Linked DNA regions of Homo sapiens: region 2 is linked to region 1. Evidence: fine-mapped expression QTL. A gene starts in region 1. The other region holds a variant in brackets. All regions are shown on one strand. Distances are between the middles of the regions. Region 1 holds the start of WDR82 (WD repeat domain 82). Region 2 overlaps WDR82 (WD repeat domain 82).

Region 1 (10,268 bases):
ATGTAGAAAGGCTCAGTGTTGTTGCTGTACTAGTCCTGGGTTGAGCCAGCTTCATGGGTGTGTGACTTGTATAGTCAGAAGGACCCTGCACTTCATTTAATATTCTGTTGTTGTCATCTTGAGATTCTTAGCAATTTTTTAACAAGGGGCCCTACAAATTGGGTAGTTAGTCCTGCTGCCAGGGAAAGATACTTTCTTTTTATCCAGGCCCCCGGTCCTGGAGTCTCAAGACCTCTCTGAGGAATTCCAGTAGAAGTGGACATACATTAGTAACTAAATTTATTTATTATTTCTGGTCATATTCATGTATATCCCACAAGATTTTCCATGCACACACTTAAATTCTGTCTAAATAAAAATGGCTTACTTCATCCTTGTAATATTTATTTTTTTTCTTTCTTTTTTTTTTGAGACAGAGTTTCACTCTATCGCCCAGGCTGGAGTGCGATCTCGGCTCTGCAACCTCCGCCTCCCGGGTTCAAGCAATTCTCCTGCCTCAGCCTCCCGAGTAGCTGGGACTACAGGCGCACACCACCATGCTTGGCTAATTTTTGTATTTTTTGGTGGAGTCGCAGTTTCACCATGCTGCCCAAGCTGGTCTTGAACTCCTGACCTCAAGTGATTCACCCACCTTGGCCTCCCAGAGTGCTGGGATTACAGGCATGAGCCACTGTGCCTGGCCCTTATCTGAGGAATTTAGAAGGGAGCAAAGACCACCTGGTAACCATCCAACAGGCCATCCAGAGGCAAAACTCCTTATCTGGGGAAATTAGAAGTAATTAAACTTCCCTAGTATCTAAAGTGGGCATCTGGTTCCAGGCCTCTTTCAACTTTTATAAGTAACTAAAATTTCTAGGCATCTCTGGAATGTCATGCTGAAACTAATTTTACAACCCTAAGCTCCTGCCTGAAGGTCCATAAATGCACCTAAGGAAAATCCACCAAGGCCCTCAGTCCTCTCGCTGGGGTGCCCCGCTGCACTCTTCTGCAGCGTTCTTTCTTTCTAAGAAATTTTCCTTTTTCAAACCTATACTGTTGTCAGTAAATTTTTTGCCAACCTGTGAGGCGACCACTTCCTGGTGCTGGGGCTCAGACACCTCACCAGGCATTTTGTGTTCTAGTGTTCTGCGTTTCCTCTTTGGCAATTAAGCTCACACACACACACACTCAACTGTCCCAAAGAAGAGAGTCACCTGATTCTAGTTATTCCGAGGGCTGTGTAAGCACTGATACACACACACACTGTCACACTTACACACATGCAACTGTCCCAAAGAAGAGAGTCACCTGATTCTAGTTATTCCAAGGGTTGAGTAAGACGTTAGTCAATCTCTAGGGAAGCCCTGCTGCTGGGCACTGGAGCTCAGAAATTTATCTCAAAGAATTAGAATTCATAAGGAGCTCTGTGTTTTGGAAAGAGGACACATTGTTTAGGACAGTTTCCATTCCAATTGTGCAGCATGAAATAGAAAAATTTAATAAGTGGGCCAATCAAGTATCTGGAATCCTTTGGATAAATTCATTTATTCAATTAATCCATACTGAGCTCTGGCTGGGCTCTGGACAAAATGGGAAGCAAAATTACTTTACAGCCATATAATAGAATAGTTTGTAGCCATTCAAAATGATTGTATCGATATTTATTGACCTGGAATATGTTCATAGTATGGGTAAACTTACAAACAATATATTATGAACCCAATAAAAATATATTTCAGGGATTGGCTGGGTGTGGTGGCTCATGCCTGTAATCCCAGCACTTTGGGATGGTGAGGCAGGCAGATCACCTGAGGTCAGCAGTTCAAGACCAGCCAGGCCAACATGATAAAACCTCGTCTGTACTAAAAATACAAAATTAGCTGGGCGTGGTGGCGGGCATCTATAGGAGGCTGAGGCAGGAGAATCACTTGAACCCAGGACATGGAGGTTACAGTGAGCTGAGAGCACGCCACTGCACTCCAGTCTGGGTGACAGAGCAGGAAAAAAAAAAAAAAAAAAAAAAAAAAAATATATATATATATATATATGTATATGAAAAAATCGGAAAGGTTCTACATCAAAATGGTAAATTTCGTGTTATATATATTTCACTATAATAAAAGATTGTAACAGTGGCTATCTCTGGATGCTGTTTTTATTATTTGTATTTTTTAGTTTTTTTGCAATGAATATGTGACAAGTAAAAGAATGACTACAAATAAAAGGAAACATAAAAAATTAAGTCTGATGCTCTTTTAAAGCCCATCTGATTCACTCTTGACTGCAGCTTTCTCTCCATCCACCCATCCACTGGAGCCGGCTTTCTGTGTCACTTTTTAAAGTCCATTTTTTTTTTTTTTTTGAGACGGAGTCTTGCTCTAATGCCCAGTGCAGTGGTGTGATCTCGGCTCACTACAACCTCTGCCTCCCGGATTCAAGCGATTCTCCTGCCTCAGCCTCCCAAGTAGCTGGGATTACAGGTGCCCGCCACTGTGCCCAGCTAATTTTTGTATTTTTAATAGAGACAGGGTTTCACCATTTTGGCCAGGCTGGTTTTGAACTCCCGACCTTGTGATCTACCCACCTCGGCCTCCCAAAGTGCCACCGCACCTGGCCTAAAGTCCATCCTTTAAGGCAACCATACTGTTGGGCTGGAAGCCAGGAGAGCCCCACTATAATAGGGCAGGGAGCCAGGCTAGGAATTGGAAACAGTAAGAATGCGAAACAGGATGAGGATTTGAAGACCCTCTTAAAAATGGGGGAAAAAAAAAAAGACTGCATTCCAAAAATAATGCAGAAAGTCAAGTCTTGGGAGGAAGGTTTGGTCTTAACGGTGAAATCTGGAAAAGGTATAGGAAGTACAATACTTGAAAAATACCCTGCAAAGATTTATTTTGGCTGGCAACATTCAGTAGATTACAGCTGTTTCTGTGGTTATTTTTGTAGATTAACATGGACCAAAATATGGCATCATCTTACTGGGTGTGTTCACTTCCCGACAGTTCTAGAACATGGTACTCGATCTGTCCTTGTTGCCTTCTAAACTATTCGAAGCAGACGCTGTATCAGACTTTCTAGCTTCTGAAATAAAGGCACAGGAATTACAGGGAAGCAGAGCAAGTGATCTGGGACGTGGAGGGTTTTTCTTCCATTGTGTGCAGTTTGGAAAGTTGCCATCTATTCAGGTTTCACTCAAACCGGCTTTTTCCAGACCCCAGAACAAATTGTAGCCAGAAGCTCTGCTCTTTGTCAGGAGGCAATTATACCCCAGACTTAGCCAGGAACTTGCCTCTTCCCTTAGAGAACAACTTCTCTTTATGTATAAGGATCCTGGCTCTCCTTTTACCCAGGGGGTTGGGATACAGCCTCTAGTTCTTTCTAGAAAGACCCCAACTGTCCCAGGGTTTCCATTTTGTTTTTTACCATTGCACAGGTCTCTGGATAATAACCTTCCTAATAGCGACTGAAATGTCTCACAGCCTTTCCTCGTTTTTGTTTCTCTTTAGCTAAAGAAAGCAAAAATAAATAATCCCCATCTTCATTGTTGGAAACCCCAGGCAATTAACCTTTTGAGGAGCTTCACACAAGATACAGATCTGTGAAGCCACATAGGTTGGCATTGAGTTTAACCCCTTGCCCAGAAAGTTAAGGTTAGGAAGCTTGGTTCCTATTTTCTGTTCAAATACTGCTTTCCTTTGTTAGAGATAAACTTTCTTTTAAGGCAAATAATCACTTATATGATAGAACCTTTAAAATAATCCTGTTGACTACAAACAGGATAGTGCAACTCTTCCAAATCTTGAATGTGGTGGTGACTGCATGACTGTGTATGGGTGTCAGAACATAAAACTAGCCACTAAAAAGGCTAATTTTTGGGGGGAAACCGTCTGCTCTGTCGCCCAGCCTGGAATGCAGTGGCACGATTTCGGCGCACTGCAGCCTCCGCCTTTCTCAATTCTCGTGCCTCAGCCGCGCCATCATGCCCGGCTAATTTTTTGTATTTTAGTAGAGGTGGGGTTTTGTCATGTTGGCCAGGCTGGTCTCAACTCCTGAGCTCAAGCGATCATCCCGCCTCGGCCTCCCAAAGTGGTGGGTTTAAAGGCGTGAGCCACCGCGCCCGGCCTAAAAAGGCTGATTTTTACTGTACCTAAAGTCTACCTCGATTAAGAAAACGAGGCCGGGTGCGGGTGAGGTCAGGAGTTCGAGACCAGCCTGGCCAACATGGTGAACCCCCGTCTCTACCAAAAATACAAAATTAGCTGGGCGTGGTGGCGCGCGCCTGAGCGAGAGACTCCATCTCCAAAAAAAAAAAAAAAAGTAAAGAGGTCGAAGCTGTCTAAGCGGACGCTGCGGTGGACTAGCGGTCAAGCTTGCCTGCGAGCGGCTCACCTGAGTCACCCCCAAAACCGGCCTCCAGCAGCATACCCGACCCTGCAGTACCCCCTCCCACGCAGCCTGCGATCGGGACGCCTGCAGGAGGCGCCAGAGTCTTCGCGGGGGTTGCAATCCCGCGCAAGGGCCCCCGGCTCCCAAGGCATCCGCAACCTTCCGATCCCCCGGGAAGGCCCTGCACGTCTCGGCCGCTCCCTGCCAGCAGCCCGCCCCGCCACTACACTCCGCCGCGGCCGCGCTGACGTCACCACCCCGCCTCCCCGCCTTGCTCCGCCGTTCCCGCCCCGCCCCCTTTCCCGGCGTGCGCCGCGGCTGAGGCTCCTCGCCCTCAGCTTCTGCCTGTCGCCCCAAAATGGCGGACACAATGAGCCGGCGACGCGCCGGTTGTCCGTGAGGTGGCTGTGAGGACGAACGGTCGGCGAGGCTCCACAGTCCAGGCAGAAGACCCTCGACCAAGCAGGAAGAAGAGGAGGAGGCGGCCCAACTGTTGGCCGACTTCCCGCTAGCCGCCGGCGCGGCGCCCGCCCCGCCTGGGTTGGCCCCTCGGCAGCCCGCCCGCTCGCCGCCGGGCCCCGCCCCGGCCCTGCGCCGCCGCTGCCTTCCCCAGCCGCCGCCATGAAGCTGACCGACAGCGTGTTGCGGAGCTTCCGCGTCGCTAAGGTGTTCCGCGAAAACTCGGACAAGATTAACTGCTTCGATTTCAGCCCCAACGGCGAGACGGTCATCTCGAGTAGCGACGACGACTCCATCGTGCTCTATGACTGCCAGGAGGGCAAGTGAGTGCGGCGGAGGCCCTGGGCCCGAGTCTCAGTGCCTCCCTCCGGTGGCCCAGCACAGGTCCCTCGGCCTGCCCTCCGTCCCGACTTCAGCCCCCAGCCTATTTTGCACGCGTTCCTGCCAGGGCCGCCTCCACCCCGCAGCCGTCCAGGAGACCTTTTATTTTTTTCTTCTTAAAAAAAAAAGATAACGATAGTCATAATTTTATAATATTATTTGTATGTCTTCGGTCTCCTTTGAGCGCTATGCATCACTTGCCAAACCCCACCTTGACCTTGACCTTTAAACGCCCGGTCCGCCCACCCTGGGCCCACCAGGTAGCGTTTTCAGCTCCTCAGGCTGTCAAAGGTGCTGGTCTGCTCCGGCCTCGACGCAGGACTGCAGGGGCTGCTTTTCTGCCTCCTTCGGCAGCGTCAGCTCTCTCTTGTGCTCTCTCCACTGTGACCTCGATTCCGCCCTGGCACTCCGCCCATCCCCTGCCCCTCAGCTTCCCGCGGCCTTTCTGCCGTCAGACCGCGTGGGTTGCACTTCTTAGCTGTCAGGATTTATTTGTTGTGCCCCTTTGAGCCCCCTTGCTTTTTCTTCCTGCTCCTAGCCTTTCTCTTACTCATTCAGACTTGGTGCCCACGTTCATAAGTGAACTTTTCAGCAACATCTAAAACTTCCTTTTTGCCACACACAAACGAACTTGGTCGTCCCATCCTGACCTGAATGTGAGCTTCCGTTAAAACAAAGCAAGCATCGTAGAACAATTTCAGGTTTCCTTTCATACTTTTTTTTTTCTATTACACTTTTTGGTCCACTTTGAATTCCAATTCTGATCATGAAACTTTTATGTTGCCACAAGTCATCTGGAGACCCACCATACCTGCATCTTTTCGCAAAATCTAAGCACAGCACTTTGCCTTTTTCCCTGGGGGTCCTTGTCAGCCCTCCTCACCGCACGCCTGTGGACTTGCAGCTCCTTGGAGCCAAAAACTAGTTTAGATTAAATTCGTTTTACCCTTAGCCACCTTCCCCAAGAAGGCTTGCTGATGTTTGGTTTAATTCGGTGGACCCTGGTTTTTTCAGACTTGATTTTGTCACCTAGTAACAGATATTATTATTATTATTATTATTATTATTATTATTATTTGAGATCTTGGGTTTTTCTCCACCTTCTCCAGCTGTTCCTTTTTCCTTTTTTTTTTTTTAGACTGGTGTCCTTCTTTTGGAACATATCTCTTCATTTGTGAATTTGATTATCTGAAGTAATGCTAGTTTGGACTGAGCTATAATGGTATCCCCCCAGTTTTTTTCCCCACTGGGGCTGTGAGAAAGTATTATGTAACCGGCTCTGGATCTGCCTGCAGTTTGTGGCAGAGTGGTCTGCAGTGGTGGTCTTAAGGAAGAGGGAATTGTTAGCTGGACAAATAGTTATTTGAGTCAGTGTTACTCATTGAGTAGATGGATTTCTGTCCTGGTCTGGTCACTTGAATCAGTTTAGAAGACGAAGTAACATTTAAAGGTGTGGTAGTAGGGTCAGCATTGTGGGGTCCTGGAGGAGTAATTTGAAGCTGGCTTGCATGAAATGTATAGTGCTTATGCACAGATTAGAACCTCTTCCCAGAACCTGAGGGTGGAGATGTATATCCTCATTTAAAGGAAATGAAGGTTGTTATAGCATTTCTTTGCAGTTTGTCCCCAAATTTGGCGTAATTTTGATTTGGGAAGGATGACCTTGACATGAAGTCCTGTCTTTCTTTTTTTTGTTTTTTTTTTTCGGGTGGGGGACGGAGTCTCTCTCCGTCGCCCAGGCTGGAGTGTAGTGGCGCGATCTTGGCTCACTGCAACCTCTGCCTCCCGGGTTCAAGCGATTCTCCTGCCTCACCCTCACAAATAGCTGGGATTACAGGCGCCTGCCACCATACCCTAACTTTTGTATTTTTAGTAGAGATGGGGTTTCACCATGTTGACCAGACTGGTCTTGAACTCCTGACCTCAAGTGATCCACCCGCCTTGGCCTTCCAAAGTGCTAGGATTATAGGCATGAGCTGCTGTGCCTGGCCAAATCCTGTCTTGTTAAAAGTAAAATGCTAGTTTTGTGACATAAGGCAGTTTATTTACTCGTAGCATTTTTACATAATTAGAAACTAACAAAGTTACAGTGTTTCAAAGAACTCCCATATGATTCAATAACTGGTTACATTTTCTGCATTTGCTTCATGACTGTAGGTAAATATTTATATGTACTGTGTGCCTCCCCCCACCTTTAGAGTTGGAGGTATCAAGCCCCTTTATCCCTAAACACTTCAACATGGATTTTCTTTCTTTTTTGAGATGGAGTCTCGCTCAGTCGCCCAGGCTGGAGTGCAGTGGCGTGATCTTGGCTCACTGCAACCTCCGGCTCCTGGGTTCAAGCGATTCTCCTGCCTCAGCCTCCTGAGTAGCTGGGATTACAGGTGCATGCCACCATGCCTGGCTAATTTTTGTATCTTTAGTAGAGGCAGGGTTTCACCATGTTGGTCAGGCTGGTCTTGAACTCCTGATCTCGTGATCTACCCGCCTCAGCCTCCCAAAGTGCTGGGATTCCAGGCATGAGCCACTGCGCCCGGCTCAACGTGGATTTTCTAAGCACAAAGACATTCTTATGTAACCAGAGCACAGTTATCCAAATTAGGAAATTTAGTACTGATACAATACTACAGGGCATGCTCTTGAGTTTTCTCTGATCAATTAATTGTAACCTTGTTTCATTATCTGTGGTGAAGGAGTGGCCTGGTAGTTAGGAGGGAACTGGGTACTAGTTTGGCCTGTGACTAGGTATGTGACATTGGTCAGATTACTTCTTTGGGTATTAGACAACCTCTTTAGTTTCCATTCTAGGCAATAATATGATGAAAAATTTTGTCACTAGTATAGGTCAAACCGACCTCAGAAGAAAAGAAGTATTTCCTTGGGAAGGCATGGTATTGTATCTTTTATTTATTTATTTTTTTGATAGGGACTTTCGCTCTTGTTGCCCAGGCTGGAGTGCAGTGGCTCCATCTCGGCTCACTGCAACCTCCGCCTCCCGAGTTCAAGCGATTCTCCTGCCTCAGCCTCCTGAGTAGCTGGGATTACAGGCATGCGCCACCACACCTGGCTAATTTTGTATTTTTAGTAGATGCGGGATTTCTCCATGTTGGTCAGGCTGGTCTCGAATTCCCGACCTCAGGTGATCCGCCGCCTCGGCCTCCCAAAGTGCTGGGATTGCAGGCATGAGCCACTGCGCCCGGCCTTTCTTTTTGTTTGTTTGTTTGTTTTGTTTTGTTTTGTTTTTGAGACTGCCTCACTCTTTCCTAGGCTGGAGTGCAGTGGCGTAATCTTGGCTCACTGCTGCAACCTCGCTGCTGGATTCAAGCGATTCTCGTGCCTCAGCCTCCCGAGTAGCTGGGATTACAGGCACCCATCAGTGTGCCTGCTAATTTTTGTATTTTTAGTAGAAATGGGGTTTCACAATGTTGGCCATGTTGGTCTCAACATCTTACCTCAAGTGATCTGCCCACCTCGGTCTCCTCGGCCTCCCAGAGTGCTGGGATTACATATGTGAGCCTCCGCACCCGGCCCTGTTTTTTTGTTTTGTTTTGTTTTGTTTTTTTGTTTGTTTGTTGTTAAGACAAAGGTCTTCCCCTGTTGCTCAGGCTGGAGTGCAATAGCATGCTTATAGTTCACTAAAGCCTTCATCTTCTGGGCTCAAGTGATCTTCCCACCTCAATCTCCAAAGTAGTTGGGCCTACAAGCACTCGCCAACTTACTTGGCTATTTTTATTTTTAGTGGAGACAAGTTCTCACCAGGTTGCCCAGGCTGGTCTCAAACTCCTGAACTCAAGCGATCCTCTCACCTAGGCCTCCCAAAGTGCTGGGATTACAGGTGTTAGCTACTGTGACCGGCCGAAGGCATAGTATCTTTATTAGATGACCCTAGTGTTAGAATTTGGGAGTTTGAAAATGGCTAAAGCAAGATTTTGTGTGCTTAGTATTTTCCAGTTTACTGGTCATTTAAATTTTCTTTACAATGGAGTTCGCCCATTGAGTGATATTTCAATTTGGAAGAGTATAAAGGATATTGTTTGTGGTAGGTGAAGCAAATTACTCAAAGTGAAAGGTTAATATTATTTTCCTTGTTGATGCTTGATCACCAGAATTATAGTTTGAGGAAGGAAGCTTACCAAAATATTTGAAAAATGTTGTGCATGTATTTTGTAAGACCCACATGGATGCAGTACAGTATAATCTTGCTTTCAAGTTAGGAAATGAGTCCAGGTGTGGTGGCTCACACTTGTAATCCCAGCACTTTGGGAGGCCGAGGCGGGTGGATCGCCTGGGTCAGGAGTTCAAAACCAGCCTGGACAATGTGGTGAAACCTTGTCTATACAGAAAAATACAAAAATTAGCTGAGCCTGGTGGCAGGGGCCTGTAATCCCAGCTACTCAGGAGGCTGAGGCAGGGAGAATTGCTTGAACCGGGGACGCAGAGGTTGCAGTGAGCCGAGATCGTGCCTCTGCACTCCAGCCAGGGTAACAGAGCGAGAATGTCTCAAAAACATAAAAATAATAAAAATCAAATTGGGAAATGAAATGAGGCAGTAGATTTCTGTTATCAGGAAAAAAAATCTCAGGTTAGTGTTTTTGATAAATTTGAGACAAATAGACCAGATCTAAGTGGAACCAGAAATTTTCCTTACACTATTCTCTTTCAACTTGTCAAGTTAGAGTTGGCTCTTCATGTTCTGTCTTTTTTTTTTTTTAAGACGGAGTTTCGCTCTTGTTGCCCAGGTCGGAGTACAATGGCGCGATCTTGGCTCAATGCAACCTCCATGTCCCGGGTTCCAGTGATTCTCCTACCTCAGCCTCCCAAGTAACTGGGATTACAGGTGCCCACCACCACACCTGGCTAATTTTTTTAATTTTTAGTAGAGATGGGATTTCACCCTGTTAGCCAGGCTGGTCTCAGACTCCTGACCTCAGGTGATCCACCCACCTTGGCTTCCCAAAGCCTGAGATTACAGGCGTGAGCCACTGCGCCCGGCCAGTTTCTGTCTTTGCTATTGTAGATGGGATGAAATAACTGATATAAACTTCTTCCACTGGTAGCAGAGT
Region 2 (8,171 bases), 23 kb after region 1:
TGAATACAGAGTTGAGGGTGGGAGTGGATTGTCAACGATGGCAACCACATTTGGAAGCTTGGTGGTGTAGTACATGACAAGGAAAGGGTTTCATGGAAAGGAAGGTGATGCATGTGCTGAGTCAGTGTTTGTAGGCAGCTGTTTTTATTAATGGCTCTGTAAGAACAAAAGAACTGCTCTGTTTTGTTTTAGGGTTATGCCAACAGCAAAGCTGTCACACTGGAGGCTTCATTTACTCCAGACTCTCAGTTTATTATGATTGGTGAGTTTCCTTTTATCCCCTGTGGGGGTTATTTCTCTGGTACTATGCATTTCTTTGTTTAAATTATTAACTGAGACATTATTATCTATTTGATAGATGTTCTTAGATTTCTGTATAGCACATTATGCCAAGGACATAGTGTCTTTTAACTGCCCTGACTGGACCAAAATTTGAGTTAAACTCCACAAGCACTACCTTATTAGTAATGCTAATGTCCTGGTGTAACCCTACATTCAGTCATCTTAGTGGCTGCCTGTTGGTAGGGTAATGGTATTCGGCCCCTTTTTTAGATGAGAAAACTGAAGTTAGAACGGAAGTGACATGCCTGTGAACAAATAGCTAGGGTCAAGATAAATTTCCAAAGTGTCCTTCCTTCACTGCCTCTCCTCCCTCTCAATTTTGCCTGAGGGATGGGTCCTAAAGCTTGGCGTATCCTCAGATCTCAATCCATGTCTCATTTCCAGTTGTCTTTGTATTGCGCCTTGAGCTGTTACATTTTCCGTGAATATCCTCTTTAGGTTCAGAGGATGGCAAGATCCATGTCTGGAATGGAGAGAGCGGTATAAAAGTAGCTGTGTTGGATGGTAAACACACAGGCCCGATTACCTGTTTGCAATTCAACCCCAAGTTCATGACTTTTGCCAGTGCGTGTTCCAACATGGTATGTGAACAGTAAGAGGTATCTGCTACTCAGGGACCCTTCCCAGTTGGGGTGGTGGGTGCCTCAACAAGCACAGCAAGCTGTGTTCTACATAGGTACATTACAAGCATCCAAGTACATGTTTCTCAACTGGTGGTTTCCCTATTTCATCTCCTATTATTTGATCTCTGGCTGGGCTGGTCTTGCCTTTCATTTTTATTCTTCCTAGAGGTGATCAGGAATCATCTTTGAGTTCCAAGGAGATCATAGGCCAGTTTTTGCTCTGGACCCTAATTTTAGGTCCAAACTACCTGGGCTATGCTTGGCAATTTTTTTGCTCCTTAAAATACTCTGAACCGGCCTTTTGTGGTTTCAGTTTTCCATTCCTGTTGGTTTACGCCAAATTCCCAGAAATTTCTACAGTTGGTCATAACTCACCACTTAGAATTAACTCCAGGCCCTTATCTCTTCCTAGATAATACTAACAGAACAAAGGATCAGTGAGTCTCAGCTCCAGTTTTCCCTTGTGATCTCCTAAACCTGCCTGGGTATTCGGGGATGAGACATTTCATTACTAGCCTACCCGGAGCACATTGCCACCTTGCTTTTTTTTTTTAACCAAGAAAAAAATGTTAGAAAAAATACAGCAAAACCATCCAGTTCCTTACTTTTTACAGCCCAGGAAGGTGGGGGCCTGTTGGAGGTAACCTGGTGGATTAGCAATGAGGACAGGTTACTTATTCACCCACCTCCCAGGCAGCACTCCTTTTTTTCCCTTCCTTTAAAAAAAAGGGGGCGGGGGGTCTGCTTTGGTGGAAGGTGGACAGTGATTATTGGAGAAAAACAGAACCATTTTACTTTCACATAGAGGAAAGAGTGTTTCTGTCTCCTTAGAGCATCGGGGTTGGTTGGTTAGGAGAGAGGGCTACCAGAGCCACTGGGGTTGGGCACATTTTTGCTGTGGGGTGGGATGTGAAGAACCGTTGGCAGTGAGGAGATGCTTGGCTTTTTAAAGTTGATTTATGTTCTCCTTCTAGGCCTTTTGGTTGCCCACCATTGATGACTGACCCTGTTGCTGCTTGGCTATTTCTGTATAGTGAGGGCGGCCAGCAGGAAGAAACTCAGAGGGAACTGAGATAATAGTGGGATTGGATCATTTGACTGGGCTGGAGAACATCCTTTTACATGGCCTTCCCATGGATGTGCTGTACATCTGCTCAAAAGAAAATAATTACTTTGATGAGCGTCTTCAAAAGGACTCTTGGTGCAACAGACTCAATTGGAACTCAGCTTTTCTAACTGTCACTGCACCAAGCTCTGCTGGAGGAGTGACCAGACTCACGATTTGGTATAGTGGGGCTCTCAAGCATCTTCAATTTGAATGTACATGCTGCTGAGGAGCCGGTGAAGTCATCAGTTCCGCACATCCCTTCTACCCTCCAACTGCATGGGAAGCCAAAGTCCTGGTTTTGAAATGCTTGGGCAGCTCAGCCGCTTGCCCTCACCCTGCATGTCTTGTTACTGGGTCTCCCTGTGTACTTGTGGCATTATCCACAACCATCATGTTTCTTAGGTGCCAAACATTTACAGAAACATTTTCATATATCTTGGGGTCAGAGAAAGGGACAGATACAGAAGGACCTTGCTTGCAGGAAGCCATGCAGTTAGTTTCTGCAGTTAGTCGTGTGAGGCTAGGTGGTTGGGCAGGCCTCGGGCTGTAGGTGTTGGGTGGGAAAAAGACCCAAGGGCCTGAAAGGGAGGGAAAGGGGAGGGTAGCGGGAGGGTAGCAGGTGAGTTCCTAGGGCTGGAAGGTTTAGCAGCAGCCTGGTGCAGTGCCCTGTCATCAAGACAAACCCACGGTCCTCCTGGGTGCCTACCAAGCTTGGTTTGTACAAAAGCAAGGTGGGAGTCTATTTTTGTACATGAGATACATCACACTTACCTGTGGGCCAGTATTGTGAAGTGAGTCTGAGTTGTTTACACTGATGCCTTCCCTGCCCACCACAAATTGTGTACATAGTCTTCAGATGATACCACCCCTTTCCCCAGCTCCCAACCAAGAGCTGGTTCTAGGCCTGTGTTATATGTCATATTTAGCGTTTTTATATATGACCTTTGATTTCTGTTGTTTGTATTTTAGCACAGTGTATGCACCTTCATTTAAATACATCTGTGTGCATACAGATACGCATATATGTGTGTGCGTATGCATATATCTCTCATCTGTAGTTTCCAAGAGTTCAGCTGAAGCAGATGGAGTCCTGCAGCCCAGGAGACACCCTGCATCCCTGCTAATAGTGTTTGCCACAAGTATTAGTGAGTCTTCCTTATTAATATTTTCATTTCAGAAGACTGAAGCAAAGCTGATAGTGTTTGCTGTTTCTTTGGCAGCTAAGTGAGGGTCTTGGGATGACTTGCTGTGTTCCTCAAGCTGCACTTTGGGGCCATCTCTGCAGTATTAGCCCCCTTTTTGCTTGGTGGTACTCTGTCTGTGCCTGTGTGTGTGTGTGATAGTCACTCTTGCATGGCTTCCATGTCTGGTTTGTGGCATTTGGGGATAAGGTGCTGAAGCCAGAGCATTTGCAGTTTGTTTGAGGCCTCGTTGCCAATGATAGATCACTCCTGTTGACCTGGTATGTCTGCTTGCTTGCTGCTTTTCCTTGCTTTCTCTTGGAAGAGGAAAGGACTCTGGTCAGGCCCAGGCTGAGTGAGATGAGCTGCAGCTGGCTCATGGCCTTCTTAGAGCAGAGAGAGGAGTATGTCATTTTACTAAGTTCCTAAACAAACATTTATGCAGGCAACACTCCTTGCAGATCCAGAAACTGAGGCACAATAGGGTTATGACTTGCTCAAGAATATGTAGCTGCTAGGGGGTAAATCAAGGCATCACAATTTCTGTTCAGCGGGCAGGAATAGGCTGTGAATTGCTAGCACTTTTTTTTTTTAAGCAATTACTTTTTGACTTGTTCCTCTGAAAGTGCAAGAGGCGTACACCTTTCCCAAATGTAGACTAGAATCTGCAGGATGCCACCCACTGTATAGTTCTGCTTTCCCAGAGAGGAAGAACTTTTAGAAACCAAATGATCTTAATTGTTATTGCCCACCCCTGGCTTTTCCGGGTAGAAAATTCACAGTAGGAATGATTGTTAAGAGAGAGTGCTTGGAACCATGGGTTAACAGGAAAGGCTACCTAACTTCACATATCTGCAACCAGAGCAGCCACCAAGCATTACTTAGCAGC[A/G]GGAAAATGATTGTATTTGAGTTCCTGTGTGTCCAAAACTGAGCACCATGTTCTTTGAAAACATGCCACCTCAAGGCTGGGCGCGGTGGCTCACACCTGTAATCCCAGCACTTTGGGAGGCCGAGGCGGGCGGATCACCGGAGGTCGGGAGTTTGAGACCAGCCTGACCAACATGGAGAAACCCCATCTCTACTAAAAATACAAAATTAGCCGGGCGTGGTGGCATGCGCCTATAATCTCAGCTACTTGGGAGGCTGAGGCAGGAGAATTGCTTGAACCCAGGAGGCGGAGGTTGCGGTGAGTTGAGATCGTGCCATTGCACTCCGGCCTGGGCAACAACAGCAAAACTCCGTCTCAAAAAAAAAAAAAAAAAAATGCCACCTCACAGTCTCTATCGTTGGGCCCTGTGGTTGCAAAGCTGCCTCCTGAATTAAGAAGGAAAGGGAAAAGATATAGCTGGAAGCGAGTGGAAGAGATGCTGAGGGCTGGGGCTGCACAGACGTGCTCAGCAGGGCTACAGGTGCTCAAGCCCTATTGGGGATGGGTGGGGAGTGGGGCAGCGGCGTTTGCCACCTTAAGAATTGGGGCCAAAGCCACTGATGTTTATTTGACAGTGACACTGCACTGGGTACTTAAAGAAATTATTTCCCGTTGTAATTATAATTACTGCTTATTAAGGAAAATATGGGAATTTTAGAAAGAATCAAGTTTGCCACCCAAATGCTACCACTGTTAATCTTTTGGTGTTAAATGTTCCCCCTAGACATTTCTGTGCATAGATTTTTGGTGTGTTTACATAGTCGTTATTCTGTATATACAATTTTATGTCCCTTTTGTACTTAACGTATAAACATTTTTTCCATGTTACAGTCTTAAACAGAATTTTATGGCTGCAGCCTCTTCGATTTGAGTTTCTGTAGCATGGTTTGCCTGGTTCCCAGAGCTGGAGGGAGGCTTGGGTTGTCTCCTGTTAGTTCTGGCTCACACTGCAGCTTGCTGTAATGCTGTGTAGACGGATTGCTGGGCTCCCTGGGACTGCCTCTGACTGCCCCTTGGTAACTAAGATTTATGGGCTGGTGGGAGGAACCCCTAGAACCAGCCTTCAACCCCAGGCTGTAATAGCCATAGAGCCAGCAATGACTGACGGGGCAAGGCAAGCCTGAGCCAGCCTGAATCTTCGGAGACTGTCTGGCACTTACCTCAGGCTGCCTTGCATCCTCTACTGTTTACTCAACCCTTCACCAGATTGACAACCTCTAGTTGGAATATGTTTTGTCCTGCTAGACCCTGGTTTCAGGAAGGCAAGAATACTGGAGTCTCTCTGAGGCCCCAGCACCCAGTCTGGCAGAAGGCAATTGCTTTGGTAACCCATTTGCCTGGAGGCTGCTGCTCTAGCTCAGCATTCTCAGAGCTGTAGAACCTGCTTCCTGCTCTTGCCTCGCCCTCTCTGGACCAGAGAAGAAAACCTTGGGCCTGCCACATTTTCACATTGCTCATGGGACTCTGCAACAGTGGCGGAGGGAACATCCTAGCTTGTGTGTGACAGGCCATGCACAGGCTCTTCTGACACTACGTACGTAGGAAGAGACCCCCTCCTGGCCTGGTGGGAGGACTGCTGCCGTGTTCAGCTCTGCTGGGAGACATGAACAAGTAGGTAAGCATGGCTGCCCTTAGAGCAGCCACTCTGGTCTCTGTCCTGCTCGCAACTGAAAGACCTACTTCACCCACCCCCCAGGCTTCATTCAGCCTTGTGACGTGAGGAACAACAGCAGGCATGGTAGCAAGCTAGGCAAGCAGGCTGTGGGGGCGAGCTGGCTCAGCAGTTGATGTGGGTAAGAGAAGCAGGCACAGGATGCTGCCCACCCTTTTTTTTTTTTTTGCTCAGGCGGAGTGGTGAGGTAGTGGAGGCTGTGGTGAGGAAAGAGGAAGTGACACTCCTACAGGCTGGTAGGACAGCACTCAAGCTGCCTGGCTAGAGGAGTCCTAGCAAGACTACCATAGGGCCTAGCTGTGGACAGGTTCAACCCTGAAGTCCTGCACTGTGGAATATAGCAGTGGGAAATATCTGATGCAGTTTTTCCAGTCTTCCCTGGAGAATGTGTAGGAAATGAAATCTAGAGTTAATGGGTAGGAAAGGGGGTCTGAGGCTGGGTGCAGTGGCTCACGCCTGTAATCCCAGCACTTTGGGAGACCGAGGTGGGTGGATCACCTGAGGTCAGGAGTTTGAGACCAGGCTGGCCAACATGATGAAACCCCATCTCTACTAAAAATATTGGGTGTGGTGGTGTGTGCCTGTAATTCCAACTGTTCAGGAGGCTGAGGCAGGAGAATCACTTGAACCCAGGAGGCTAGAGGTTGCAGTGAGCTGAGATGGCACCATTACACTCCAGCCTGGGCGACAAGAGTGAAGCTCCATCTCAAAAAAAAAAAAAAAAAAGCCGGGGTGGGGTGGGTTCTGAGAGCCTCTCAGTTGAGTTAATTATACAGGTTTTACCATTGGCTCTGCGACCTGTTGGATATTCTTCTTGGCTGCAATTTTGGGCTGTCAGTTGCCTGGTGAGAGAATTCACCTAAATTATAAAGTAGGAGTAAATCAGAGAAGGGTCAAGTAAAGCTGAGGTCATGAAGGTGGTTTGCCTTGTAATTCAATAGATACTTCCTGAGCACTTGAGCTTTGGTACGTTCTAGTTGACAGCATGGCTGTTTTTGTTTTGTTTTGTTTTTGAGACAGTTTTGCTCTTATTGCCCAGGCTGGAGTACAACGGTGCGATCTTGGCTCACTGCAACCTCCGCCTCCCGGGTTCAAGCGATTCTCCTGCCTCAGCCTCCCGAGTAGCTGGGATTACAGGCATGTGCCACCACACCTGGCTAATTTTGTATTTTTAGTAGAGACAGGGTTTCAACATGTTGGTCAGGCTGGTCTCAAACTCCGGACCTCAGGTGATCTGCCTGCTCAGCCTCCCAAAGTGCTGGATGACACACCTGAGCCACCAGGCCTGGCCCCATTTTTTTGTTTGTTTTGTTTTGTTTTGAGACAGAGTCTCACTGTGTTGTCCAGGCTGGAGTGGAGTGGCACAATCTCCCCTCACTGCAACCTCCACCTCCTGGGTTCAGGTGATCCTCCCACCTCAGCCTTCCAAGTAGCTGGGACCACAGGCATATATCACCATGCCCTACTAATTTTTTGTATTTTTGATAGAGATGGGGTTTCACCATGTTGTTCAGGATGGTCTCAAACTCCCGAGCTCAAGTGATCTACCTGCTTCAGCCTCCCAAAGTCCTGGGATTACAGGCATGAGCCACTGTGCCCCAGCCAAGATGACAGCATAGTCTTTTTGGAGAAGATGAACTAAGCTGCTTATTAAACAGCAAGCCCTAAGGCCCTAACTTTTATCCAGCTAATTATAGCTTTATAGAAATCTGCATTCAAAAGTAAGTGAAAAAGTCACAGTGTACATCTGTAATTCCAGCTACAGGCTGGGAGGACTGCTTGAACCCAGCAGTTTGAGACTATCCTGGGCAAAATAGACCCTGTCTCATTACTTTTTATTTTTAGTTTTTTGAGATGGAGTCTCGCTCTGTTGCCCAGGCTGGAACGCAGTGGCACAATCTCAGCTCACTGCAACCTCCACCTCCCAGGTTCAAACGATTATTCTGCCTCAGCCTCCTGGGCAGCTGGTACTACAGGCACGTGCGACCATGCCCGGCTAATTTTTGTATTTTTAGTAGAGACAGGGTTTCACCATATTGGCCAGGCTGGTCTCGAACTGACCTCATGATCGGCCTGCTTCGGCCTCCCAAAGTGCTGGGATTACAGGTCTGAGCCACCATGCCTGGCCTTACATTTTTTTTTTTAAGTGAAAAAACCACCCTTCCAGTATCTCAAGCCCAGAGCCTACAAGTAGTGGAGGCTGGGCATGGTGGCTCACGCCTGTAATCCCAGAGAGGCTGAGGTGGGATTATCACTTGCATCCAGGAGTTTGAGCCAGTCTGGGCAACACAGACCCTGTCTCTACAAAAAATAAAAA

The links.
Region 2: its variant is fine-mapped to the expression of WDR82 in whole blood (TOPMed, PIP above 0.99).

The regions. Positions count from the first base shown.
Region 1 is chr3:52,273,080-52,283,347 of GRCh38, reverse strand. WDR82 (WD repeat domain 82) reads left to right here and starts at 4,699. Exons shown (of 9, transcript NM_025222.4): 1 at 4,699-5,147. The coding sequence starts at 4,987. It overlaps LOC107986086 (a long non-coding RNA gene), which reads left to right. Exons shown (of 3, transcript XR_001740699.2): 3 at 417-1,030. RefSeq lists enhancers at 4,076-4,707, 5,177-5,276, 5,687-5,766, 5,787-5,836, 5,340-5,972 and silencers at 4,437-4,726, 4,907-4,986.
Region 2 is chr3:52,251,288-52,259,458 of GRCh38, reverse strand. It overlaps WDR82 (WD repeat domain 82), which reads left to right. Exons shown (of 9, transcript NM_025222.4): 7 at 193-262; 8 at 781-923; 9 at 1,940-5,025. The coding sequence ends at 1,969. Among named protein-coding and RNA genes, the nearest start is that of PPM1M, 9.6 kb to the right of the region's middle. RefSeq lists an enhancer at 5,709-6,028. The variant A/G (reference allele first, on the strand shown) is at 4,144.